Linked DNA regions of Homo sapiens. The protein of the gene in region 1 interacts with the protein of each later gene in a pairwise test. Each region holds a gene or a part of one and is shown in the gene's direction. Other genes may lie near its edges.

Evidence for each region. The genes of interacting proteins can lie anywhere in the genome.
Region 2: the proteins of UBTFL1 (region 1) and ZNF558 interact in binary tests that used the Homo sapiens proteins (3 or more experiments, as listed by UniProt).
Region 3: the proteins of UBTFL1 (region 1) and NOTO interact in binary tests that used the Homo sapiens proteins (3 or more experiments, as listed by UniProt).
Region 4: the proteins of UBTFL1 (region 1) and ZBTB7B interact in binary tests that used the Homo sapiens proteins (3 or more experiments, as listed by UniProt).

Annotation. Positions count from the first base shown.
Region 1 is NC_000011.10:90,084,802-90,087,631, forward strand, and holds UBTFL1 (upstream-binding factor 1-like protein 1), read left to right. Parts: upstream 1-1,148; coding exon 1,149-2,330; downstream 2,331-2,830. UniProt on the Homo sapiens protein: Essential for proliferation of the inner cell mass and trophectodermal cells in peri-implantation development.
Region 2 is NC_000019.10:8,825,805-8,829,304, reverse strand, and holds part of ZNF558 (zinc finger protein 558), read left to right. Parts: intron 1-3,500. UniProt on the Homo sapiens protein: May be involved in transcriptional regulation.
Region 3 is NC_000002.12:73,205,574-73,209,073, forward strand, and holds part of NOTO (homeobox protein notochord), read left to right. Parts: intron 1-2,826; coding exon 2,827-3,041; intron 3,042-3,500. UniProt on the Homo sapiens protein: Transcription regulator acting downstream of both FOXA2 and Brachyury (T) during notochord development. Required for node morphogenesis.
Region 4 is NC_000001.11:155,009,302-155,012,801, forward strand, and holds part of ZBTB7B (zinc finger and BTB domain-containing protein 7B), read left to right. Parts: intron 1-956; coding exon of another isoform or gene 957-1,096; intron 1,097-1,159; exon of another isoform or gene 1,160-1,447; coding exon of another isoform or gene 1,448-1,714; intron 1,715-2,275; exon of another isoform or gene 2,276-3,315; intron 3,316-3,500. UniProt on the Homo sapiens protein: Transcription regulator that acts as a key regulator of lineage commitment of immature T-cell precursors. Exerts distinct biological functions in the mammary epithelial cells and T cells in a tissue-specific manner.

The DNA of each region.
Region 1 (2,830 bases):
AACTTTCACTGAGGCTTAAATATGATGAACAATTAACCAAATAAAGTTGAAATGTTTTATAATTGTCATTAAATCCTTGATATTTAAAAGGAGAAGCAGTATGGTTCTTAGAAAGCATTCATTCCCGGCCCAGGAGTGGTGGCTCACGCCTGTAATCCTAGCGCTCTGGGAAGCCGAGGCAGGCGGATCACCTGAGGTTGGGAATTCGAGACCAGCCTGGCCAACATGGTGAAACCCCATCTCTACTAAAAAATACAGAAAAATTAGCCAGTCGTGGTGGCACATGCCTGTAATCTCAGCTGCTTGGGAGGCTGAGGCAGGAGAATCACTTGAAGCTGAAAAACAGAGGTTGCAGTGAGCCCAGATTGCCCCACTGCACTCTAACCCGGGCGACAAGAGTGAAACTCCGTCTCAATTAAAAAAAAAAAAAAGAAATAAAAGAAAGCAAGAAAGCATTAATTCCCATGCACTGGTCCTGGAGAATCTATAATTCAGTCTTTTATCACAGGTTCACATTCCCTTATAAAAAGGTAACAGTTGGATGCATGTCTGGAGGAGCTCTTGGGCTTGTCCGATTGTATCTTTAACTTCTCATCTGCACCTTTAGCTATGGCTATTTGGGCTGTGCTTAGAAAATGGCCATACTCAGGGCACTGTAGAATGAACAGTCCTTCCTGTTTAGGCATTTCTCCTTCCACTTTAACTTCTGACTCTGTCTTCAGGGCATTTCTGTTATATTAAGCTTCTTAAGTGATGAGTGGTCTGGTGTTTGTGTTATGCAACTCAATTTAAGATAGGTTCATGTGAGATCTGGCAGAAAGCAGGCTGGGGTGGGGTGTGGAGATACTGAATATTGTGCATGTAGCATATGAAAGGCAAACATAAATTTAATTCAGAAACAGGCAATGTTTATTTATAGTTAAGGGTCAAATGAATTATACAAGGGACATATGACAAATAGGATGTAATTTGCTTCATTAATCCAAATGAAGGAGAGTAACTTTCTTTCTCCTCAGAAATACAGAATCACACATACTGCAATACTTCCAGAAATAAATCATCCACTGAGTCTTAAAAGTAAAGAACTCTGTGTTCTTGCTCTGGTGTCTACATAACCGGGATCTTATAAGTAAGCCAAAGACATCTAAATGGCTTTGCCTAGAAGCCAAGGCCATTGGTCCAACAAAGACATCTTGAGGTTACTGGAATGCATGGAGAATAATCGCCCATCTGATGACAACAGCACGTTTAGCTCAACTCAGTCACACATGGACTGGGGAAAAGTAGCTTTTAAAAACTTTTCTGGTGAAATGTGCAGACTCAAATGGTTAGAGATTTCTTGCAACTTGAGAAAATTCGGCACTTTGAAAGAATTAGTCCTGGAAGCTAAGAAATGTGTTAAAAAGATGAACAAAAGCCAAAAATACAGGAACGGTCCAGACTTTCCAAAGAGGCCCCTTACTGCTTACAATCGCTTCTTCAAGGAGAGTTGGCCCCAGTACTCCCAAATGTACCCTGGGATGAGAAGCCAGGAACTGACCAAAATCCTGTCAAAGAAATACAGGGAACTCCCAGAGCAGATGAAACAGAAATATATTCAGGATTTCCGGAAGGAAAAGCAAGAATTTGAGGAAAAACTTGCTCGATTCAGGGAAGAACACCCTGATTTAGTCCAGAAGGCCAAGAAATCTAGTGTCTCCAAGAGGACTCAAAACAAAGTGCAAAAGAAGTTTCAGAAAAATATTGAAGAAGTGAGGTCTCTTCCAAAAACGGATCGATTTTTCAAGAAGGTAAAATTTCATGGAGAGCCTCAGAAACCCCCCATGAATGGATACCACAAGTTTCACCAAGATTCCTGGTCAAGTAAAGAGATGCAACATTTGTCAGTGAGGGAGCGCATGGTAGAGATTGGCAGACGCTGGCAGCGCATCCCGCAGAGCCAGAAGGATCATTTTAAGAGCCAGGCTGAGGAGCTGCAGAAGCAATACAAGGTGAAATTGGATCTCTGGCTCAAGACTTTGTCACCTGAAAATTATGCTGCATACAAAGAATCGACCTATGCTAAGGGTAAGAATATGGCCATGACAGGAGGCCCGGACCCCAGGTTGAAACAAGCAGATCCACAGTCCTCATCAGCAAAGGGTCTGCAAGAAGGGTTTGGGGAGGGGCAAGGGCTCCAGGCTGCAGGAACAGATTCATCACAGACTATTTGGGTAAACTGTCATGTCTCCATGGAACCAGAAGAGAACAGGAAGAAAGATAGAGAAAAGGAAGAAAGCAGTAACTCTTCAGACTGCAGCAGTGGAGAAGAAATAGAAGTTGATGTCTGAGGGCAGTGGCTCTAGTGCAGCTTCCTTGTTTTTTTTTTTTTGTTTGTTTGTTTTCTTTTCTTCCTTCCTCCCGCAAAGTAGGACAGGTTGGGAAGAAAGAAGCAACTTGGTGCAGCACTCTCCTACATCAAGATTATGAACCTGGGAGGAACTCTTTGGGAAGAATAAATATAAGTTTGAGCCAATACTGGCCTTATCCTTAAAAAAACAAACAAACAAATATCATCCCTTTCCCGAGGAACTTTATGCAATTAAGGCTTCTGAAATGAAGAGATGATTACGTTGTGGGGTACACACTGTATTAGACTGAATATTTCTGAAGCAAGAAGCTTTGCTTTACTCATTTTTGTCCTGCCAAAGGTGGTAGGGGGATACCCATAAGCCTGGGACCCAAACTTCCCTGTGGAAATGTTTTTCAGGACTCCTGCACTAAATCTAAGGTCGGGGATATTTGATGAAAGGTGGGGTAGGTGTCTTAAGAGAATTGTCCCACTCTTGAT
Region 2 (3,500 bases), on another chromosome or scaffold:
CCTGGCCTCCCCAGTGGCTTTTAGGCAAGGAATTTTTTTTTTTTTGAGATGGAGTCTCACTCTGTTACCCAGGCTGGAGTACTGTGTTGCAATCTCAGCTCACTGCAACCCCCGGCCTCCCGGGTTCAAGCAGTTCTGCCGCAGCCTCCTGAGTAGCTGGGATTACAGGCGCCTACCACCATGCCCGGTTAATTTTTGTATTTTCAGTAGAGACGGGGTTTCACCATGTTGGCCCGGCTGGTCTTAATCTCCTGACTTCGTGATCCACCCGCCTCAGCCTCCCAAAGTGCTGAGATGATACAGGCATGAGCCACCACACCCGGCCTTTTTTTTTTTTTTAATGAGACAGAATCTCACTTGGTCACCCAGGCTGGAGTGCAATGGCACGATCTCAGCTCACTGCAACGTCTGCCTCCCAGGTTCAAGTGATTTTCCTGCCTCAGCCTCCCCAGTCCCTAGGATTACAGGCACATACCACCACACCTGGCAAATTTTTTGTATTTTGAGTAGAGACAGAGTTTCACCATGTTAGCCAGGTTGGCCTCAAACTCCTGACCTCAGGTGATCCGCCTGCCTAGGCCTCCCAAAGTGCTGGGATTACAGACATGAGCCACCGTGCCCGGCTAGGCAAGGATTTCTGAAGGCAATGGTAAGTTACAGAAAAGCAGAAGCTACAGGCAAAATCATAAAGCAATACATGGAGGTTACACACTGGTTTAGACTTAAAAGGGCAAGGATGTCTTGAAGCAGGAGCTTGTCATAGGTAGATTCAAAGATTTTTCTGATTTGTAATTGGTTAAAGAAAAGAAGCTTTGTTTAAAAATTTAGAGTCAGTAGGAAAATGTTAACTGGCTGGGAGAAGTGACTTTCTCCAAGCCCCTCAAGAAGAAACTTAGCACAAAGAACGCTGAAGCTCAGCCTTCATGTCCCGCTTATCTGGGGTCTCTGAGCCAGCAGCTCCATTTGGTGGGGTCCTCAGTGGGAGTCCCAGCCTCTGAAAGGCAACTCAGGGACGCATGTTAAGATGTTATCTTTAGTTTCCATGGGGAAAGCGAACATCTCTGGAGCCTTAACTTCTTTGGCTGTTGTTTTAGGTTACTATTACCTTCCTGTTTAACAAGTTCCATATTTACTTTTGGGGCTAGCTGGATGCTCGGAATTTCCCTTAAAGGAACTTCAGGATTTTCCTTTATTTTCCCACTTGGGGTTCACAGGCCCCTGAAAAAGGGAATTGCTGCTCCATCTCCAAGTTGGGGTCAGATGTAGCTAGTCATAGGGCTCGACTAGAGTGAGGGGACAGGGTTATGTCCAAGAGAGCACTGCCGTCGAAGAAGCTGTGTAAGGAAAGGCCCTGCAGCAGGAGAGAGGCTGCCACGCTCCCTGCACTGGGAACACAGGGATGGCTGAAGCCGAGACAAGAACAGGGAAAGAAGCTGGGCGCAGTGGCTCACACCTGTAATCCCAGCACTTTAGGAGACCAAGGTGGGCTGATCACCTGATGTCAGAAGTTCAAGACCAGCCTGGCCAACATGGTGAAACCCCGTCTCTACTAAAAATACGAAAATTAGCTGGGTGTGGTGGTGCACACCTGTAGTCCCAGCTGCTCGGGAGGCTGAGACAAGAGAATTGCTTGAACCTGGGAGGCTGAGGTTGCAGTGAGCAGAGATTGCACCACTGCATTCAGCCTGGGTGTAAGAGTGAGACTCCTCAAAAAAAAAAAAAAAAAAAAAAAAGAATAGGGAAAGAAGTGTGACCAAGACCAAGATCAAGAGGGAGGCAGAACCATACTAGGCCTCACTTCAGACTCTGTTCTCAGGCCAGTGGGAAGACACTAAAGAGTTGTGGGCCAGAGGGTGATGCAATTTGCATGTAGTGTAAGCATGCAGATAACAAGGACTTCAGGATTCAGAAGGAAGACATTTAAGAGGCAAAAGAGGGGGTGTTTGGAGGTAGTTTAGGAATCAGATGATTGCTCCCAAAAAAAATAAAATTTATTTTCTCAGCCATACTAGTCACATTTCAAGTATTAGAGCAGAATTATAGAACATTTCCATCATCACCAGAAGTTGTGTTGGGCAGCTGACATAGAGTGGCCCATCTGCTGTGACCATCCTCCAGCACTGTATCCAGGGCAGGGCAGGTGTCACAGGATCTGTAAACTGAAGAGACCCCTCCTGTCCTAGTGGGAAATTTCTGCTTCCAGACAGCCTTGAATAGGGACTTGGGGCCTGAAAATGTCCCAGGTACCTTCTCTACTTGTTTTTTTCTTGGAGGCCCAGTGAGCTGGCTGGAGGCCAACCCCCCCTCACTCCCCAGCTCAGTGACTGGAACTACTGTGTGCCTACCTGCACATTAGGTCTGTTACGGGGAAAAAGGAGATACTTCCCCCTGTAGAGGGTAGGGAAGTTCTGCAGCAGTTGCCTGGGTCTGCTGAACTCACCCAAAGGGAAGGTGTGATGTGAAAGGCATGTTAGTTTCCTATTGATGCTATAACAAACTACCACAAATTCAGGGACTTAAAACAACACACATTTATCCTCTTGCCTTGCTGGAGGTCAGAAATCCTCAATAAGCTGGAAGGCCTGCATTCCCTCTAGAGCAGGAGTCCCCAGCCCCTGGGCCACGGACCAGTGCTTATAAACAGGGCTGCACAGCAAGATGTGAGTGGCAGGTGAGCGAAGCTTCATCTGTATTTACAGCCACTCCTCATTGCTCGCATTACCACCTGAGCTCCACCTCCTGGCCGATCAGTGGCAGCATTCGATTCTCATAGGAGCCCAAACCCTATTGTGAACTTTGCATGTGAGGGATCTGGATTGCACACTCCTTAGGAGAATCTAATTCCTGATGATCTGTTGCTGTCTCCCATCACCCCCAGATGGGACCATCTAGTTGCAGGAAAACAAGCTCAGGGCTCCCACTGACTCTATATTATGGTGAGTCGTATAATTATTTCATTATATATTACTGTGTAATATAATAGAAATAAAGTGCAGAATAAATGTAATGTGCTTATAAAACATCATCCTGAAACCATTCCCTGCCCAGCCCCACTGCCGCCCCGTGCTCCATGGAAAAATTGTCTTCCACGAAACCAGTCCCTGGTACCAGAAAGGTTGGGGACCACTGCTCTAGAGGCTCTAGGGGAGAACCCATTTCCTGCGTTTTTCATCTTGTAGAGGCCACCAGCCTTCCCTGACTGTGGCTTGTTCCTCCATCATCAACACCAGCAGGGCAGCATCTTCCAGTCTCTCTGTATGTTATCTCCTCCCTGCTACACACACGCTCCCTTCTTCTCTCATCTCATCCCATCCTTCTTTGAACTGACCCTCCTGTTTCCCTTTTATAAGGACCCCTGTAATCACAGTGGGCCCACCCAGCATCATCCCCCATGTCAGGATCCTTGCCTTCCTCACAGCTGCAGAATCCCTTTTGCCATGTAAGGGAGTAGATCCAGAGGTTCTGGGGATTAGAACACAGACCCCTTTCTTGGGAGAGCA
Region 3 (3,500 bases), on another chromosome or scaffold:
GATTATGGCGGTATTCTTTTGTTACATAGAAAAAATTTTAATTTTTATGTTTGATGTGTTTTTACAAATCCTTTTTTTTTTCTTTTTTGAGACAGGTTCTCTGTCACTCATGCTGGAGTGCAGTGGTGCGATCACGGCTCACTGCAGCCTCAATGTTCCAGGCTTAAGCACTCCTCCTTAGCTTCCTGAGTAGCAGGGACCACAGGCATGCGCTACCATACTCAACTAATTTAAAACATTTTTTTTTGTAGAGATGGAATCTCACAATGCCTGTCTCAGCCTCCCGAGTAGCAGGGACCACAGGCATGCGCTACCATACTCGACTAATTTAAAACATTTATTTTGTAGAGATGGAATCTCACAATGTTACCCAGGCTGATCTTGAACTCCTGGGCTCAAGTGATCCTCCTGCCTCAGCCTCCCAAACTGCTGGGATTACAGGCATGAGCCACTGTGCCTGGCCCCACATCTTATATGATACTTGGAAAGAACTTCCTCACTGTGAAGTCATAAAATAACTTCCCCATTTTTTTCTAAATTTTTGTGGGTTTACCTTTTTACATTTAAATATTTCCTCCATTTAGATTTTTTTTAGTGCAAGGTATTGGGTATGGATCCAGCTTAATTTTTCCCAGATCTGGAAATAATCCCTCTTCCCCATTGGATTATCACTTCTGTTTTAATTTTTATAATAACCATTGACTTTCTTCTTGCTCTGTGCCTGGCACAGTGCTAAGCACCCTGTAAGCATCATATGCTTTTGTTTTTGTTGTTGTGGTAGTTGTTGTTGTTGAGACGGGGTCTTACTCTATTGGCAAGGAGTGATCTCGGCTTGGCTCACTACAACCTCTGCCTCCCGAGCTCAAGTGATCCTCCTGCTTCAGTCTCCCAAGCAGCGGGGTCTACAGTTGTGCACCACCACACCTGACTAATTTTTGTATTTTTTGTAGAGATAGGGTTTTACCATGTTGCCCAGGGTGGTCTCAAACTCCTGGGCTCAAGCGATGGGCCCATCTCAGTCTCTCAAAGTGCTGGGATTATAGGCATGAGCCACTGTGCCTAGACAGCACCATGTTAAAATCCTGACATCTCTGGAAGTAGGGATTATTATCACCATTTTACATGTGAGGAAATCAAGGCTCACAGAAGTACATTGTCTTGCCCAAGGTCCTCTGGCTGGTAATTGGTGGCAGAGCTAGGATTCCAACTAGAGCTTTTTTTTTTTTTTTTTTTTTTTTTAAGACAGAGTCTCACTCTATCACCCAGGCTGGAATACAGTGGCACAACCTTGGCTCACTGCAACTTCCGCCTTCCAGGTTCAAGCGATTCTCCTGCCTCAGCCTCCTGAGTAGCTGGGATTACAGGTGCCCACCACCACATCTGGCTAATTTTTGTATTTTTAGTAGAGACGGGGTTTCGCCAAGTTGGCCAGGCTGGTCTTGAACTCCTGACTTCAGGCTATCCGCCTGCCTCAGCCTCCCAAAGTGCTGGGATTACAGGTATAAGCCACCATGCCCGGCCTCAACTAGAGCTCTTAAGGAACACACAGTACAGCCTACTTTCTTCTCCAAAGGTCAATTTCTGATTCTGAAACAAGGCTGACTAGATACACCAGGCTGTATGTCTGATGGGCTTTTCCTGATCTTTTGGTCTACCTTGGCAGGCACAGTGTAAGCCTAGTGGGCCCAGTGGTTGGAGTCCTAAGCAGCCGGGACCCCAGATACACTCCCTTTGTTGGGGCAGTCTGTCTGCCAGCCCTGAGGACTCCCCAAGGCTAGTGGGGGCTGAGTGGCCTTAGCATTATGCTTGCCATTCTTCTGCCTAGAATACTATACCCCCAGATAGCCCAATGGCTCACTCCCTCATCCCCATCAAGATTTGACTTAGGAACTGCTCTTGGTTGATGCATCTCCACTGGCCCACAGCTTGGTCTCATTTATTCCCGTGGCTTAAAATACCATCTATATAAGCTGATGACTCCCAATTTTTTTTTTAATTGAGACAGAGTCTTGCACTGTCACCCAGGATGGAGTAGAGTGGGCTCTATCTTGGCTCACTGCAACCTCTGCTTCCCGGACTCAAGCAGTTCTCCTGCCTCAGCCTCCTGAGTAGCTGGGATTACAGGCATGTGCCACCATGCCTGGCTAATTTTTGTATTTTTAGTAGAGACGGGGTTTCACCATGTTGGCCAGGCTGGTCTTGAACTCCTGATCTCAAGCGATCCGCCCCCTTCAGCCTCCCAAAGTGCTGGAATTACAGGCATGAGCCAACGTGCTCAGTGATGACTCCCAAATTTGTATCCTCAGCTCAACCCTCTCTTCTGACTTCTATCTCTTCTGACCTCATTTCTAAGATGTAAGCTCCATAACGACAGAGATTTTCTGTTTTGTCCTGAAACCATGCATGACACACAGTAGACATTCAAAAAGTATAATATTTGTTCAGTGAATTAAAAGGGTGAACCCCTGGGGGTCTCTTCTCTGCCCATTCCATGGCGTTGCCAGAAGCAGTCAAGGAGAGGAAAGGAAGGCAAAGAGAAGGGAGGTTTGGCAACTCCTCTTAGGGGCCAGAAGTGAAGCCACTTGGCTAGAGAGTAGTGGTGGCAGACAGTCTCATTGCATTGTCCCTTCTTTCCCATTTGTTTGTTTCCTGTTATTTCTGCACAGTCTCTTTCCACTGTCTTCTTGCACTGTTACCTGGCCAAGGGGAAGGCAAGGTAGCAGAGCTGTGTGTGCCTTCTCATTTTGCCCAGATGGGAGTGCAGGGGGCTTCTGGCTAACCTCCCCTGCTGCTGGATAACCTCCCCTGCTGCTGGTTGCTCTTTAGGGTTGGAGCTGGCTCACTGCTCAGGACTCTGGGCCTTCCCAGACTGGGCCCCAACGGAGGACCTACAGGACACTGAGAGACAGCAAAAGAGAGTCCGAACTATGTTTAACTTGGAGCAGCTGGAAGAGTTGGAGAAAGTGTTTGCAAAACAGCACAATCTGGTGGGGAAGAAGAGAGCCCAGCTGGCAGCTCGGCTCAAACTTACAGAGAACCAGGTGGGAGTAGGGACTCCTATTGGGCCTGGGCTGCACCTGGGGACAAACACTACCTCAGCAAGGCCCTAAAAGGAGGGTGGGAGGAAGATATGGGCCCTCTTCCCTGTGCCAGGCTGTTGAGGGGACAGGCCCTGACTTTTTGCACACTCTATATAATGAAAAAAAAAAGTCCCATTTGAAGTCACATAATGTGAACAACTTGGAATGTTAACTTAGATTATTAGTCTAAAAATTGATAATAAAGGATTTCCATGCTAAATAAGGACCTGCCAGTAAAATTAAGTAGATGTGGCCAGGTGCGGTGGCTCACGCCTCTAATCCCAGCACTTTGGGAGGCTGAGGTGGGCAGATCACAAGGTCAGGAGTTCAAGACCAGCCCAGCCAACATAGTGAAACCCTGTCTCTACTAAAAATACAAAAAAATCAGCTGGGTGCCTATAATCCCAGCTACTTAGGAGG
Region 4 (3,500 bases), on another chromosome or scaffold:
GGGCTCAGGTTTCTGCTGGCGGCTTGGCGGGTGTGGGGTTACCAGCCAGCTCGGTTACCCAGCCGGAGACACTAGGCTGGGGGGGAGGGGGTGGGCACAGGGCAGACCCTGGCACCTTGTGCGGTCTCCTCAGGCCCTAAGGGGAGCTGGCACTGTCCAGGCAGACCCTGCTGAGAATCCTGATGGCCAGAGTCTGTCCAAGTGGACAATTGCCTGGTCCAGGGTGGGCACCCTCCGGGGAAAGTCCAGCAGCTCCAGGGCTGGAAACTCTGACGGGCAGAGAGGCACAGGTTGTCCCCCCACCCCCACCCCACATCCGCTCTCGCTGCAAACCCCCCTCCACCACTCATTCTCCCCAACTGGCTCCCAAATTGTGGTCCCCTGCTTCATCCAAAAGTGGGGTGTGGGTGCCCTAAACTCAACCATCTTTTGGCAAGACCAGGCATTGGAAGGCAGGCCTGGTCCCTGATTTAATTCCTCTGCGGCTCTCCACCCCTCATATGCCTGGGAAGAAGGGAATGGATGGTTGGAGCAGGGGGCCAATGGAGAAAGTGGAGAAGTTTGAGCAAGAGAGAACCAAGGGGAAGAGAAAGGAGAGGCAGGGACAGTTCCTGGGAGGAGGCCTAGGGACACTGATGGGGTGGAGAGGATGCGGAGTTCAGGGAGGGCTGAAGGAAGGAAAGCAAAGGGTGGACTTGTGGAGGGAAGACAAGGGTCGGAGGAGGCAATGAGGGGACAGAACCAGGAGGCCAAGAGAGGGGCAAGAGTGAGGGCTGGATGATGGCAGGGAATACCCAAAGGTGGCGGCGCTAAGGCTGAGAGAGTTGCCCCCATTCCTTCCTCCGCCATCTTTTATCTTCCTCATATTTCCCTTGATGGGGACTAAGGGGCTATGGGCAAGGGCTGGTGTCATGGAAAGAAAATGTAGGGAAGCATTAAGGTCTCCCTCATTTCAGGAGCCCCAGAACCAGGACTGGGGGATTTGGAGCTGGGCAGAGACTTAACCCCCACAGCACCGGGAAGCAGCCAACTCCCCTCGCCTCCTTCCCCCTTCGTGGCTTGCGGTCTCTCTTCCCCGCCTCGGCCCCCAGGAAGTGTGAGTGCTGGGGGTGGTGAGGTTAGGAGGGGGAAGCGTCATATGGGGGATGGGGAAGGCATGCACAAGCTTGGAGGGGCTGGGGTGGGGAGAGAAGGGCTCCATAAATGTCAGAGCATCCCTGGGCAGAGAACCTCTTCTTTGAAGCCCTTCTAGTCCTCATGTGAGAAGAGGCTCAGCCCCTTTACCTTCCCTCCCCAACTGGGCAATCCAGATGGCTGCAGCTCCTGGGCCCCAGAGGCCCTGGGAAGCGGTGGGGGAAGCTGGAGAACAAGGATTCCTGGGTCCCTTAGGACTTTGGACTGGCTGTCCAATTTCCCCACCCCCCTGGTCCAGACGCAGGCCAAAGCCATGGCTTCGTGCAAACTTAGCTCCAAAAAAACAGGAAGAGAACCTGAGGCTGGAGTTGGGGTGGGGGGGTGGAGGGAGAAAGGAGACAGAAGTAAGGGGGAGGGGTGGCCAGCCAAGGCACCAGGAGCGTTGGGAAGAGCCTCAGGTCTCTCCATCATCCCTGGCAGGAAGATGTTACAGCCTGGTCCTCATCCTCCCTCACCCCAAGCTGCTGCTCCTGGAGAAGCCTGGCCAGGCCCCTCTCAGGCTCCCTGGCAGAGCCTAGAGGTAGGGGCCTTGGAACCTGGGGAGGGGGGGCTCTGCGTGCCTGTGTCCCAGGCCCATATCTATTTTCTCTGCTGCTAATCCTGGTTCCGCCTGCTGCCCCCCACACTAAGCCTCACTCCCCTAATCCCCAGGGTGGGGGAAAGGGGGGTCAGCTTTACTCAGCTGCCCTGTTCAGGGCCTGCTATCCCTGCCCTTCGGCTGGCTCAAGCCAGCAGTGTTGGCCTTCGTGGCCCCCAGCCCTGCACTGGACCCTGCCTGAGGTCAGCACCCGGAAAGAGTTCCCATCTCCCTTTTCTTTCCAAGACCAGGCCAGTGGCCTCCACCTTTTGGTTTCTTGGTGCTGGACATACCCTGCCAGGTGCCCTTGAGCACTGAAGGGTAGGTGATAGGCACTCCCACCTTTACCCCCTCCCAACTTTCTCACCCTGAAGTCTTCCCCCAACCAAGGACAGGGCAGGCTTGACTCAGGGCCCAGTTTCAAGAGAGCTGCCCACCGGCTTGGCCGGTCTAGCAGGCCTGACAGTGAGGGGAGCCTGGGGGGGTGGCGGGAAAGAGGGGAGTGATGGGGTGGGGCCCCCAGTTCTTCCCCCTACCAGGCAAACAGACCAAACAGACCTTGCCCGGTTCCCTGGCACAGCTGCACCCCCAACCACCACACACACCCATGCCCACAAGGTCTTAGCAAGAGGGGGCATGCCAGATTGGGTGGGGATGGGCCGCCTTCATGGGGCGTCAGGGGACTGGGCCCTCTGGGATGCAGAGGTGGGAAAGGTGCCCAAGGTAGGGTGGGCACCCTGGCACCAGTGCCCTGCCCTGGCAGAAAGAAGGGGGAGGCCTTTGCCCCACCCATCCCTCCCAGATGATGGGTCTAGGAGGGCCCCTTGGCCTGGTTGGCACCACCATAGCTCCAGGTGGCACCTATATTGGCATGGGTGTTAGAGCCCTGGGTAAGGGTTAGGGGAGTTTCCCAGAAGCTAGAGAAGCTTATGAACACCCTCTCCTTCCCACACATGTCCTCTGCCTCTCCCCCTCTTTCATTGCTACCTCTTGGCCATGGGCATTGGATTTGGGCCTAAGGAGTTAAACACCCACCCTTGCCCAATCCCTGTGTGAGTTGCGTGGTGAACGAGCCTGAGCCTGTGACCTGACAGTGAGGTCAGCCAATCAGCGCCCCCACCACACCAAGTTGCCACGGAGACCGGCCCTGGGGTGGGAGAAAGGAGGCGGGTTTAGCAGCGGGAATGGGTGGGGTGGGCAGGGAAGGAGGGAGAGGGATGGGGTGAGCCACGTGCCTGCCAGTGCCCAGCTCCCAGCCAATGGACAGCGAGGACAGCCCCACCCATCCCCCTTAGGAGGGACAGGATCCACTTGGGCCCAGGAGGGTGCCTACTGCTGCTTAAGTAGCTGCAGCCACTGTTGCTGCTGCTCCTCCTGCTGCTGCTGCTGCCCACCTGGTTTTTGTTTGTTCCCAAGTCTGGGGGCCATTTGCCACTTGTACCATTTGTAAAGTACAGGCAGGAGGATTAAAGGGAGCAGGGAGAGCTCCCAGATGGCTTGGTTCCTAGGGAGAGAAGTGGTTTGCGGACTTACGGTGGGAACAGGTGAGCTATCTAAGGGTGCCTAGAGGTGGCTTACAAGCAAAGAAGGACATGCGGGTGCTGCTCACCCAAGGTTTCTGTGCAGGAGCCCTGGCCTTGCAATGAAGAGGGCAGGCAGGGAGGCAGACACAGAGAATGCACTTCTTGTGTCCTAAAGAGGAAATTTGTGGCTTGACTCCCCCATTCAC